Homo sapiens: one gene and its partner. Changing the gene in region 1 together with any one later gene gives a genetic interaction. Each region holds a gene or a part of one and is shown on either strand. Other genes may lie near its edges.

Region 1 (7,027 bases):
CACACCCAGCTAATCTTTCATATTTTTTGTAGAGAAAGGGTTTTCACTGTGTTGGCCAGGCTGGTCTCAAACTCCTGGGCTCAAGTGATCCTCCCTCCTTGGCCTCCCACAGTCCTGGAATTACAGGCATGAGCCACCGCACCGCCCTCTTTATCCTTAAGTAACATTGATATGGAGATAAAAAACATGGGTTCTTGGCCAGGCGTGGTGGCTCACACCTGTAATCCCAGCACTTTGAGAGGTTGAGGCAGGCGAATCACTTGAGGTCAGGAGGTTGAGACCAGCTTGGCCAACATGGCAAAATCTCGTCTCTGCTAAAAATGCAAAAATTAGCCAGGTGTGGTGGTACCTGCGACTGTAGTCCCAGCTACTCCGGAGGATGAGGTGGGAGGATCGCTTGAACCAGGGAAGCAGAGGTTACAGTGAGCTGAGATTGCACCACTGCATGTCAGCCTGGGTGACAGAGCAAGACCCTGTCTGAAAAAAAAAAAAAAAGCATGGGTTCTGGAGTTGGAGGTGATCAGTGCTGGGTGTATTAATTTCCCATGGCTGCAATAACAAATTATGACAGATTTTTGGTTTAAGACAACAGGAATGGATTCTCTCTCAGTTCATGGTCAGAAGTCTGAAATCATGGTACTGGCAGGGCCACAATCCCTGGAGAGGTTCTACAGGAAAATCCTTGCATCTTCCAGATTGCAGTGGATCCAGCTGTTGCTTGATTTGCAGCAGCGAAACCCAAGTCCCTGCGTCTGTCTTCACTCCTGTGTCTTGTGTCCTCTTTTTTCCTTTTTTTTTTAAAGTGAGATGGAGTCTCGCCGTGTTATAGGCTGGTCTCGAACTCCTAGGCTCAAGTGATCCTCCCACCTCAGCTGTTCTTTTCTTTTCTTTTTTTTTTTGAGACGGAGTCTGGCTCTGTCACCCAGGCTGAAGTGCAATTGCGCGATCTCCGCTTACTGCAAGCTCTGCCTCCTGGGTTCAGGCCATTCTCCTGCCTCAGCCTCCCGGGTAGCTGGGACTACAGGCGCCCGCCACCACGCCCGGCTAATTCTTTGTATTTTTAGTAGAGACGGGGTTTCACCGTGTTAGCCAGGATGGTCTCCATCTCCTGACCTCGTGATCTGCCCACCTTGGCCTCCCAAAGTGCTGGGATTACAGGCTTGAGCCACCGTGCCCGGCCCCAGCTGTTCTTTTCTTATAAGGACACTGGGCATTGGATTTAGGGCCCACTTTATATCTAGGATGATCTCATCTCAAGATCCTTATCTGCAAAGACCCTATTTCCTAATAAGGTCACCTTCACAGATTCCAGGGGTTACAACTTGGATGTCTGTCTTTTTTTTTTTTTTGAGATGGAATTTTGCCCAGGCTGGAGTGCAATGGCGTGATCTCGGCTCACTGCAACCTCTGCCTCCCGGGTTCGAGCGATTCGCCTGCTTTGGCCTCCCAAAGTCCTGGGATTACAGGGATTAGAGGCATGTGCCACCATGCCCGGTTAATTTTTTTTGTATTTTTAGTAGAGATGGGGTTTCTCCGTGTTGGTCAGGCTGGTCTCGAACTCCTGACCTCAGGTGATCCGCCCACCTTGGCCTCCTAAAGTGCTGGGATTACAGGTGTGAGCCACCGCCACCAGCCTCACATATGGCTAATTTTTAAGTTTCTTCTAGCGATGCGGTCTCACTATTTTGCCCAGGCTGGTCTTGAACTCCTGGGCTCAAGCAGTCCTCCTGCCTTGGCCTCCCAAAGTGCTAGGATTACAGACGTGAGCCACTGCGCCCGGCCAATAAATATTTATGTCCATGTTACTGACAGCAGTGTTCGTTGGTGTGGCATGGGAATGAGCTAGCTTTTCTAGGAGGAGCCCCCTATGCTCCAGGGCTGCCCCGCTGTCTTGGCTCACCGGCCATGGGAGGGAGTCCTGGGCCATGATCTGTACCTAACATAGGAGGCCCAGGAGAGGCACGTGGGGAGGACTTCCAGCCCTGTTCCTTGACGTCTGCACCCTCCAGGGGAAGGATGACAGCTGCAGAAGGGCCTGTCTCTGTCACTCTGTAGTGAACAGTTACTTCTTGCCATCTGAAGTCACCCTGGCCTACGTCCATGAGATTGGCCAAATGGCAACTACCAACACCAGGCCATTTTCCCTGTGCAGAGGGGGAGGCCCTTTGGCGTGGGCTTCCTGGGCTTGAGGAAGCTTTGGCATGGCCTCTGGAGTTCCTGGGCATAGGCTGCCCTCCCTTGGAAAGGAGGCAGTTTCTCAGGGAGGGGTGCCGGGAAAGAGAACAGAACAAACTCTCACTTCCCCAGCCCTGTGGCGCTCTTTCTGGAAATGACTGTGTCACTTTTCTTTCTTGGTCAGCACGAGTCAGTGTGGCCAGTGCTTTAGACTCTCCCATCCCCTTGGCTCAGAAGCTTACACAGCAGCATGGGCTCCGTCAGGGGCTAAACTTCAGTTTGTGAGGGGCATGCCATGGGGTGGAAAGTTCAGAGAAAAACCCTTTGTCCAAAGAAGGTGAAGAATGGCCTGCTGTCACCGAACCAGGGGCCCTTGTGACTTCCTTTGGTTACACTCCTGGGATCCCCCTGACAGCTGGGGCAGGGGTATAGAAGAGCTTGTTATGTGCCCCATCTTTAGGACATCTCGGTGTCAAGCTGGAGTGACAACAGGGAAAGTTAGTAACCCCAGAAAGGCATTTGTGTTTCAGCGGTGCCTGCGTGTGGCTAATGGATACCGTCATTTATTGAGCATTTATCCCGTACCAGACTGTGCATAAACTTGTGTTGACTCAAAATGCTTGACCTTGGGGGCAGCTAGGGAAAGGGCAGTGATATAAATTAGGCCTATGGGCCACATTGAGCCTGTGGCCTATTTTTATCTGTGTTTGTATTTTATTAGTGAGACAGAGTCTCACTGTGTTGCCCAGGCTGGAGTGCAATGGCATGGTCTTGGCTCACTGTAACCTCCACCTCCCAGGTTCAAGTGATTCTCATGCCTCACCCTCCTGAGTAGCTGGGATTACAGGCCTGTGCCACCACCCTGGCTAATTTTTGTATTTTTAGTAGAGACAGGGTTTCACCATCTTGGCCAGGCTGGCCTCGAACTCCTGACCTCAAATAATCTGCCTGCCTCAGCCTCCCAAAATGCTGGGATTACAGGTGCGAGCCACCGCACCCAGCCTGTGTTTTATTATTTATTTATTTTGAGATGGAATCTCGCTCTGTTGCCCAGGCTGGAATGCAGTGGCGCAATCTCGGCTCACTGCAACCTCTGCCTCCCAGGTTCAAGCGATTCTCCTGTCTCAGCCTCCCGAGTAGCTGGGATTACAGGCACATGCCGCCATGCCCAGCTAATTTTTTGTATTTTAGTAGCTCACTGCAGCCTCTAACTCCTGGGCTCAAGTGATCCTCTGGCCTCATCCTCCCAAGTAGCTGGGACTACAAGCACATGTCACCACCCTTGGCTAATTTAAGCAATTTTTTTAGAGACAGAGTCTTGCTGTGTTTCCCAGGCTGGCCCCAAACCCCTGGCCTCAAACCATCCTCCTCCTGCCTGAGCCTCAGAAGTAGCTGGGATTATAGTCACGAACCGCTGGGCCCGGTGTGGCCTATTTTTGTACAGACAAAGCTAAGAAAGGCTTTTACAGTTTTTGAGAGATTGATTAGGGAAAAAAACTAAAACCCAATCCACAAACAACAATAATCAGTTGAGACCACAGTGTCCTGCAAAACCTGAAATATTTACTCACTGGCCCGAGGCAGGGGAAGCTTGTAGACCCCTGGGATAAATGAATGAGGCAGGCAGGAGTTGGGGTCTGTGGGGAGTTTGGCCCCAGCCAAAAGAGAAACCAAAAAATCCTCAGGCCGAATAGAGCATACTTCTGAATTGTGTGAGCCCCTTGTGCCAATTGTGGCGCTTACTGTATGTTACCACTTACTCTGAAAAGAGTTCTGTGAGGTCAGAGATACCAACCCCAATTTACTGGTGGAAAAACAGAAATGAAAGAACTTGACTGGCCAAAGTGATGTGGTTGGCAGGCAGCAGAGATGGCTTTGGCATTCTGGGTGACTGGATGCCCACCTTAAATGCATATATAAGTGGTTCAGTGACATTTATCTGTTCATCACAAAGACCCAAAGTAGCAGAGGCTTAATTAAACACGATGGCATTTTATTTTTTGTGCTCTAATGCTAAAGTGTGAAGATTGTCAGGTGCCAAAGTCTCCTGGGCTCTTGGAAGTTCCCAGATCCAGGTCCTCCCCCCGGCTTTTTTTTTTTTTTTGAGATGGTGTCTCGCTCTGTTGCCCAGGGGCTGCAGTGCAGTGGTGTGATCTCAGCTCACTGCATCCTCTGCCTCCCGGGTTCAAGCGATTCTCCTGCCTCAGCCTCCCAAGTATCTGGGACTACAGGCGTGTGCCACCACGGCTGGCTAATTTTTGTATTTTTAGTAGAGACGGGGTATCGCCACGTTGGCCAGGCTGTTCTCAAACTCCTGACCTCAGGTGATCCACCCGCCTCGGCCTCCCAAAGTGCTGGGATTACAGGCCACTGCCCCAGGCTGATCCTCCACCATTCTTAAGGTGAGGTCTTGTCCTCAGGTTTCAGCATGACTGCTGGAGTCCCGCCATTACACCCTGGCTTCCAGACAGCAGGACAGAGGAAGGGACAAAGGAGAAAGGGTGCAAAGGTCACATCCAGGTGTTTGTTAAGAAAGGTTCCCGGTAGCTGATGCAAGGTGCTTCAGCTTTCATTTTGTTGGCTAGAATGTAGTCACATGATCACTGCCAGCTGCAAGGGATGCTGGGAAATGTAGTTTTCAATCTGAGCGGCCATGTGCTCAGCTGAATTTAGGGTTCCAGTTTCCATGGACAAAGAGAGAACATACAGGGAGTCACCTTGGCCACAGTGGGTAGGATCTGGACCTGGCCAGAATGTTGGGAAGGACGTTTCTGGGTTATGGAGAGGTGCTCCAGTGGGCCAGGGCTGGAGACAGCCACCTGGCTTGGAGCACAGGGTCCCCTGTGAGGAGTGGAGGGGCTAAAAGTGGAAACAGGGCTGGGTTGGAATCGAGGATTTTTTTGGTTTTTTTGGAGATGAATTCTCGCCCTGTCACCCAGGCTGGAGCACAGTGGCTCAATGTCATCTCACTGCAACCTCTAGCCTCCCAGGTTCAAGTCATTCTCCTGCATCAGACTCCCAAGTAGCTAGGATTATAAGTGCGTGCAACCACACCCAGATAATTTTTGTATTTTTAGTAGATACGGGGGTCTCACCCTTTTGGCCAGGCTGGTCTTGAACTCCTGACCTCAAGTGATCCATCTGCCTTGGCCTCCCAAAGTCCTAGGATTACCGGCATGAGTCACCGCACCCAGCCTCAGGTGAAATCTTAATGGAAGGTGTCCAGTGCTGTGAGCAGCTCCTGGTCACCAAGCACTGGCCCTCTGTGTAGGGGGTCTGGATGAGATGGGTGGGCAAGGCCTTTCAACAGAAGCTGGAGTGTGGTGTGAACTTGCTAATGACTTTGAGATGCCAAGCCTCACACACCTCAGACCAGGTTGGATTTAGCAGGTGGAGAGGCTCAGGAAGACCTCTGTGGCAGGTGTGTCTCCTTTCTGCGGAAACCTGCTGCTTCTAAGGTCTGCTGGAGAACCTGGGAGGTGGTGAGTTTGCAAAGACATCCAGGGAAGCAGCCACTTAAGCGAGGGCAGGATGGAGGGGCCCACCTGGGCCACACCTGGCTGCTTGAGGTGGCGAGTTGAGGCTGGGAGGGGTTTCCATCAGTTCCATCAGCTCAGAGCTAGGATTTTTTTTTCTTCTTTTTTTGAGACAGGGTCTTGCTGTGTCACCCAGGCTGGAGTGCAGTGACACGATCATAGCTCATTGCAGCCTTGAACACCCAGGCTCAAGGGATTCTCCCTCCCTCAGCCTCTCTACAGGCTGGGACCACAGGCGCACATCACCATGCCTGGCTAATTTTTTTTTTTTTTTTTTTTTGTAGAGACAGGGTCTCACTATGTTGCTCAGGCGGATGTGGAACTCCTGGGCTCAAGCGATTCTCCTACCTTGGCCCCCAAAGTGCTGGGATTACAGGTGTGAGTCATGGCAGCCACGGCTCCAGAGCTCGGGTTCTTAATCTGGTCTGTGGATGGCCCCTGGGGGCGGTCCCATGAGCCCCTCACAATTGGACACAGTTTTGCAAAGGGGTAAAAGGACAAGAATCGGTAGCTGTGACTGTGGATGAGCCTCTGAGCTTCACTTTCCCTCCCTGAAAGGGGGTGACAGTGGCACCTCCCTGGAGGTTTTCGTGGAGGGGAGGAAACACATGTAAAATACTTCACCCCAGTTGGGCACAGAGGCTCATGCCTGTAATCCCAGGTTTTGGGAGGCCGAGGCAGCAGGGCGGTTTGAGTCCAGGAATTTACAACCAGCCCGGGAAACACAGTGAAACTGTATCTCTTAAAAAATAATTTAAAAAAATTAGCCGGCATGGTGGCACATGCCTCTAGTCCCAGCTATTCCAGAGGCTGAGGCGGGAGGATTGCTTGAGCCCAGAAGCTTGAGGCTACATTGAGCCATAATCGTACCACTGCACTCCATCCCGGGAAACAGGGCAAGACCTTGTCTCTAAAAAAAAATGCTTCTTGCTTGATGACTTGTGATATATGAAAAGGAAGAAAGAAAAGAAAAGCTTTGCCCTGTGTGCCTGGCCCGAAGTAAGTGCTCCATAAATTGGCCGTGGTGTAGCTGTGGATTCTCTGCACATTTTTCTGTGCAGAACCTCCCCTGATTTCGGTCAGCTTCTCAGAAGGATCTGTGACTGAAAAAGGGTACCAGTTCCTGGAGGACAGCACCTGATTGGGGAGTGGAGTCTGCCCTGGCTGGTAAGGGATTGGGGGCTCTCTGCGCAGGGCCAGGACATCTCTCCAGGGACAGGCGAGAAGCTTTGAAAGGGCAGGAAGGAGAGGGCAGCAAGGTCAGATGCCGTGAGAGGTCAGAGTGAGAGCCAAGGGGCGGTCACTGGATTTCTGAG
Region 2 (7,027 bases), on another chromosome or scaffold:
ATGCTCAACCTGTACCTAAAAATCTTGGTGTTTCTGACAGAGTTCTAGTGTGGGATTTCTGGTTTTCATGGGCATTTCTTTTAGGGTATGGCATATTGTCTCATTAATACTTAATTTTAGACCTTAAATGTTACTTGCAGATTTTTACTTGCTAATCGTATCAACAAAATATCAAAGTGAAAGTAATCACTTCCTTATTCATTGTTTCTTTCAGATTCTGAAGCTTCAAGTCCTTTCACACCAGTGGCCGATGAGGACAGCGTAGTTTTCAGTAAACTGACTTACTTAGGCTGTGCCTCGGTAAATGCTCCCAGGAGTGAAGTGGAAGCCTTAAGGATGATGTCCATCTTAAGAAGCCAGTGTCAGATTTCACTAGATGTTACCCTTTCAGTGCCGAATGTGTCTGAAGGAATTGTGAGGTGAGACTGGTTTGTTGAAATCTTTCGATATTTACATCAGATCTCTGACCTGTTGCTTCAGAAAGAAGCAATAGTGAATAAAATACATATTAATAGTTATTTTACTTGTGTAACGTTTCATTTACCTGGCACTCATGTCTCCCAAGGACTGTGACCTTTGTGAAAAATGGTTACTTATTTGTAATAGTTTTTCGTACTCTTCCCGATCATGTGTAGTACATTAGGCATTTAATGTTTTGGGGATAAATGAAATATATTGACATGAGTCAGCCTAAAAGATTATATTTTCCATGTTCCTTTGATGAAAATACAAGCTTGACACATTATTTCAAAATGGAGTTTCATGTTGAGTTTGAAAGTTACAAAAATTTATTATTAAATATTAACTATACCAGCACACCCCTTAATTTTTATGATGAGAAAACTGGCTAGGTGCAGTGGTTCATGCCTGTAATCCCAGCATTTTGGGAGGCTGAGACGGGTTGATCACTTAAGTTCAGGGGTTCGAGACCAGCCTGGGCAGCCTGGGCAACATGGTGAAACCCTGTCTGTACAAAACATACAAAAATTAGCCACGCATGGTCATACACACCTATAGTCCCAGCTACTCAGGAGGCTGAAATGGGAGGATCACCTGAGCCTGGGAGTTCAAGGCTTCAGTGAGCTGTGATCATGCCACTTCACTCCAGACTGAGTGACAAAGTGAGACCCTGTCTCAACAAAGCAAAATGAAAAAAAAAGATGAGAAAACTGAGGCACAGAGAAGCCTCTAGCTGTTTATACTAATAGAACAAATAACAATTGCAGATAGCTAATCAGATGTCTGTATCAACCAGCTAAATATACTGTTGCTCAATAAGTCAGATGAATGCAGGTAAAATAAATTTTTTTTCCCTATTACCAAAGATACATGCTTATTTAAAAAAATTGCCACATAAAAATAGCCTTAATTCTACTCTACCACTAATAAATACAGTTAACATCTTGGCTTATTAAGATCTTCTTTGCATATTGGTATATGTATATGTCTAGGTATATGTAAATATACCTGCATATATATACATACATAATTTACAACTGTTAGAATCAACTTTTTTTTTTAACAGCAATGGACCTGTACATACCATCTTGTACTTAGTTTTATATCGTAAACCTCTTTTCATGCCAGTAAATATTATTAAAAATTTTAATTTATGATGGCATATGAATGGGTTATAAATAAATAACCCATCTCTTATATTAGACATTTTAAGGCTTTTATCTTTCAGAGAAAAAAGCATGAATGATGATAGCTAGTTTTAATTATATGGGAATATCAGTGTTTTATAAATAGGTATCTTTGAGCTCAATCTTTTTAGACTTCTGTTGATTTCCTTAGGATAAATTCCTAGAAGTAAACTTATTGAGTTTGTCTATTTTTATTGCTTCTAATAACATTGCCAACTAGCCATCTAGAAATATTGATCTAGTTTATACTTTTATCAGCAGTATATAGAATATCCATTTCTCAGTATCCTCAGAAGTATTTTGGACTTTCATGGTGACAGAGTAATAGCTGTGTGTTGATTGTAGTAAAATAATCTGTATATGTAATTTTTCCCCTTAAGTATTTAAATAACTATTTTGCAAAGACTCACAAATTCTATTTATTAATGATAAACTATTAATAAAATGTGTTTAGCACTCATTTCTATATGTTTCTTAGTCAATACTCATTCCTCTAACTGAAGTTAGACTTTAATATATTTTTAATTCTATAAAAGAAGTTAGAAAGCTAGTCGGTTTTACCCCACATTTTTAGAGTTTTCATAAAAGTGCTTTCAAACCTGTGTTAGATCCTCTTCCTAGGTATTTCCGTGATGAGCAAGGCCTTCTAGGCTTTCCCATTAATGGCTCTACCCACATAGTGTTGAAATTGCATAGTTTCTTTTTAGACCTTCCATAGTTGTGCCTTACTGCCCTGATCAGAGTCTGGAATGTTGTAGGTATCACATAAATATTTGTTGAATAAGTAGATTTTTGAATGAATGCTATCCCTTTGATTTTTTACTGAATGGCATCCTTTTGCTTTTATTCATGATTTTTTTTTTTTTGAGGAGTTAACATTTTGTATAATTTCTGTCCTTATTTTCCATGAATCAAAAAAAAACTTGTTTCAGTCTGAGAAAAAGCATCAGTTTTTTGTTTTTTATTTTTTCATAACAGATTAGGTCATTTTTAAAGGAGATAATTAGAAGCACAGCTTTGCCCAGGTGTGGTGGCTTATGCCTGTAATCCCAGCACTTTGGGAGGCCTAGGTGGGCGGATCACCTGAGGTCGGAAGATTGAGACCATTCTGGCTAACCTGCCCTGTCTCTACTAAAAATACAAAAAATTAGCCGGGCATGGTGGCACATCCCTGTAATCCCAGCTACTTGGGAGGCTGAGGCAGGAGAATCACTTGAACCCAGGAGGCGGAGGTTGCGGTGAGCTGAGATTGCGCCATTGCACTCCAGCCTGGGCAACAAGAGCGAAACTTGTCTCAAAAAAAAAAAAAAAAAAGCACAGCTTCAATGATGTATTTTGGTAGTCTAATTTACGTATTAATCGTCTTTATTTTGTAGCAGACTGTATAAGAAATGTGCTTATTGATATTGTTTATACCTTTCTGTTTGCCTCCCTAAAACATGATACTATATGGTTTTTAGTACTATGGAATTACGTAATCAATAGCTTCCGGAATTCACATATGAGTTACTTATTAAAATTTAAGGTTAATATCAGCATACCAAATATATGATCTTCTTACTAGAAAGAATGAGTCTCACATCTTAATCTAAACGTAGTGCAGATTGTTCATAATTCCTGTAATCTCTCTGTATCTTTTTCTCTGAACAGACTCTTAGATCCTCAGACAAACACTGAAATAGCAAACTACCCTATCTACAAAATCCTCTTCTGTGTCAGAGGGCATGATGGAACTCCTGAGAGTGACTGTTTTGCTTTCACTGAAAGTCATTACAATGCAGAGCTCTTCAGAATACACGTCTTCCGGTGTGAAATACAAGAAGCTGTAAGTCCTCAAGAGAAAACTCTCTGCAAATGAAACTTCACCAGTGCCCTCACTAGGTTGAAATGATTATGGTATTTATTATGATCACTCATAAGCCAGATGAAATTCTCTGCTATTGTTTTAGTGATTCTAGCCTCATGGGCCAAAATATAAATTAACTAAAAATTTGATTAACTAGAACTTTGTTACTACTACTAAGAATGTCAGAGGAGATCTGTTGGCTACTTTTGATTGGGTTAAGTAGGCATTCTGGTTCTAACATTGACAGATTTGCAAACCATTCTTTTAAATCAAAACTTGTTAGGACTGTTTTCATTGTAATATCTTCAGATAGTTTCTAACAATTTAGGAAGTGATTTTTAAATTGGATTTATAGTGCTTACAACCATTTCTTTTTTAAAACCCCTTGTCTGGACATTTTTAGTGTTGCTTGCTTTATAGGCCTAACAAATTAGGTAATTTACCAAAAGAAATAAGTGGGATAAAGATAATTATTGCCCTCCAAAGTAGGTAATCTTCCAGCCTTAATAAAGGTATTTTATATCTTTTGATAACAGCCCATTTCCTAACATGTCTGGTTGTAGGTAAGCCGGATACTTTACAGTTTTGCCACTGCCTTCCGCCGTTCTGCCAAGCAGACCCCACTTTCAGCCACTGCTGCACCCCAGACTCCTGACAGTGACATCTTTACCTTCTCTGTGTCTTTAGAAATAAAAGAAGATGATGGTAAAGGTTATTTTAGGTAGGGAATCTTATTTTATTCATGTATTAACATGCTGTGGTTCAGGGGAAATTCTAGGTCAGATTATAACTTTCATACCATAAAATGATGGCTTTTAAAGGGAGGGCTTTTAAAAAAAATCTGGATGATAAAGGCATATAAATACATAAATTTAACAGAGGCAAAGTTTGAAGAATTTTAAAGCAATTAAAAAAATTGTCATATTGGGAACATGTTGCTACCTTCTTTTAGTCAGATACCAAGTGGCTAACTGCTCACAAAAATATGGCCAAACCGCCAGGCGCTGTGGCTCACACCTGTAATCCCAGCTCTTTGGGTGGCTGAGGCGGACGGATCACCTGAGGTCGGGAGTTCGAGATGAGCCTGACCAACATGGAGAAACCTTGTCTCTACTAAAAATACAAAATTAGCCGGGCGTGGTGGTGGGTGCCTGTAATCCCAGCTACTTGGGAGGCTGAGGCAGGAGAATCGCTTGAACCCGGCAGGCAGAGGTTGCAGTGAGCCGAGATCCTGCCACTGCACTCCAGCCTGGGCAACGAGAACGAAACTCCGTCTCAAAAAAAAAAAAAAAAAAAAAAAAAAAATATATATATATATATATATATATATATATATATATATATGGCCAAAGCTTAGTCAGCTGGATTTGTAGCTATATTTGTTTTGCTGATTGTATTTGCTTGTTTTAGTTGGTTGATTTACTTATATTAATAATCTAAAAATCTTAAGCCTTTTCAAGTCAAGTTTTCCCAGTAAAGTTATCTGCATACATTGGAAGGGGAGAAATAAGGTCTGTGTCTGAAGTCTAATCTTTTGTAGGGTTAGAAGTGACTGATTTTAATTTTTAAATATAATGATAATCCTTTGAGTGGTGGAAAGAACCATGGAATAGAAGTCAAAACTTAGCTTTAGTTTAATTATTGTTACTATTAACAGTGTCCCCATTTCCAAGTTTCTTTACATCTGTCAGTAGTTTCCTCATTTATTAAATGAGGTGGCTAGACTCTAAAACCCTTTCTCACTTTAAAATTTTATGGTTGCAAGATGACTTGATGTTTTTAAAATTACAGCCCATGTCCCAAAATGATTGTATTATAATCAGTAATTGCATGTAGAAGTCTGTTTCCTCCATGACTACCTCATTAAATTGGTAAAATGAAGTTATATAAAAATATGAATATTTCTAATATTTTGCTTTTAAATTAAGCACAGTGATTGGTTTATTAGATTATTAGAAAAACTGATAATTTTTAGTCTTTCTTCAGACTTTGGAATTGTCATGCCATCTGGTGGCCAATTTAGTGTACAGTGCAGCTTAAACTTTGAGGAGTAAAGTATGACTCATTGTGCTCTATGCTTTCTAATTAGATAGATTTCTATTCTCTCTCTCTCTTTTTTTTTTTTTTTTGAGATACGCCTCACGCTGTTGCTCAGGCTTGAATGCAATGGTACAAACATGACTCACTGCAGCCTCAGCCTTCTGGTCTCAAGCAGTCCTCCCACCTCGCCCTCCTGAGTAGCTGGGACCACGGATGCATGCCACTATGTCTGGCTAATTTTTTTTTAAGTTTTTCTAGAGATGGGGTCTTGCCACATTGCCCAGGTTGGTCTTGAACTCGTGGTCTCAAGTGATAGTCTCAGCTTGTCAAAGTGTTGGGATTACAGGCATGAGCCAACCATTCCTGACTATTTCTATTCTCAAAGCAATGCTGTGAGGTAGTCCTTCCTGCAATGTACCTTCCTGCCCTGCAAAGTGAAAATTATAATCTGTATAATTTTAAGTAGTTTTTTACCTTGTTAAGCAACCTTTAAACTAAATATATTTTCTTTCTTTTTTTTTTGAGACAGAGCCTTGCTCTGTCACCAAGGCTGGAATGTAGTGGCACGATCACGGTTCACCGCAACCTCTGTCTCCCAGGTTCAAGCAATTCTCATGCCTCAGCCTCCTGAGTAGCTGGGATTACAAGCATCTGCCACCATACCGGGCTAATTTTTTCTATTTTTCAGTAGAGACAGGGTTTCGCCGTGTTGGCCAGGCTGGTCTCAAACTCCCGGCCTCAAGTGATCCATTTACCTGGGCCTCCCAGAGTGCTGGGATTATAGGCATGATTCACCATGCCTGGCCTTTTTTTCTTTATTGAAAATATTTATGTAGTTTTGGTCTGTAAATTCTAATTATTAAATAGGAAAGATTAAGATCCCTCAGAAGTATCAGTATAACTTCCCTTCCTTCTGAAATCAGGCATATTCAAGGTAGAATGATCATAAACATCTCTGTTCTATTTGTTAATACTGACAAAGTGCTATTACAGAAAATCCCTGGATGGTCAGATTTGCTTTTCACATTTGTTAGGACTTTGTTCTCCTTTTGCTACATGGCTTTGCTGAATTTCTGGTTTATAATAAATACTGTTATGTTAACTTAAATATATTATTTAAGTATAATGATCAATATACCTAAATATATTAGGTTAATATATATTATTTAGGTATAATAATAATTATATATTATACATATAAATTATGTAATAGTTATATACCTATTATTATATAAAACCTATTATATACTTACTATTATACCTAAATATTTATTTTATCTAAATATTATACCTAAATAATTATTATACCAAAATAATTATTATACCTAAATATATTAGGTTAACACAACAGTACTTTAGATGTATGAAATCCTAGCAAAATATACCTTGGTTTGTCAGATTTAAACTTGTCAAAGGTAGTTCCTCTTATCCAGTAATTCTGTAATATGTATGGAAATTTATCTGCAGAAATAATCATTGAGGTTTTCAAAGAATT

What was found. Genes that interact genetically often act in the same process or in processes that back each other up.
Region 2: of CARM1 (region 1) and RABGAP1, changing one suppresses a phenotype caused by changing the other (phenotypic suppression), as found in Homo sapiens cells (one study listed by BioGRID).

The regions. Positions count from the first base shown.
Region 1 is NC_000019.10:10,874,544-10,881,570, forward strand, and holds part of CARM1 (histone-arginine methyltransferase CARM1), read left to right. Parts: intron 1-7,027. UniProt on the Homo sapiens protein: Methylates (mono- and asymmetric dimethylation) the guanidino nitrogens of arginyl residues in several proteins involved in DNA packaging, transcription regulation, pre-mRNA splicing, and mRNA stability.
Region 2 is NC_000009.12:122,986,001-122,993,027, forward strand, and holds part of RABGAP1 (rab GTPase-activating protein 1), read left to right. Parts: intron 1-214; coding exon 215-419; intron 420-3,296; coding exon 3,297-3,471; intron 3,472-4,055; coding exon 4,056-4,213; intron 4,214-7,027. UniProt on the Homo sapiens protein: May act as a GTPase-activating protein of RAB6A. May play a role in microtubule nucleation by centrosome. May participate in a RAB6A-mediated pathway involved in the metaphase-anaphase transition.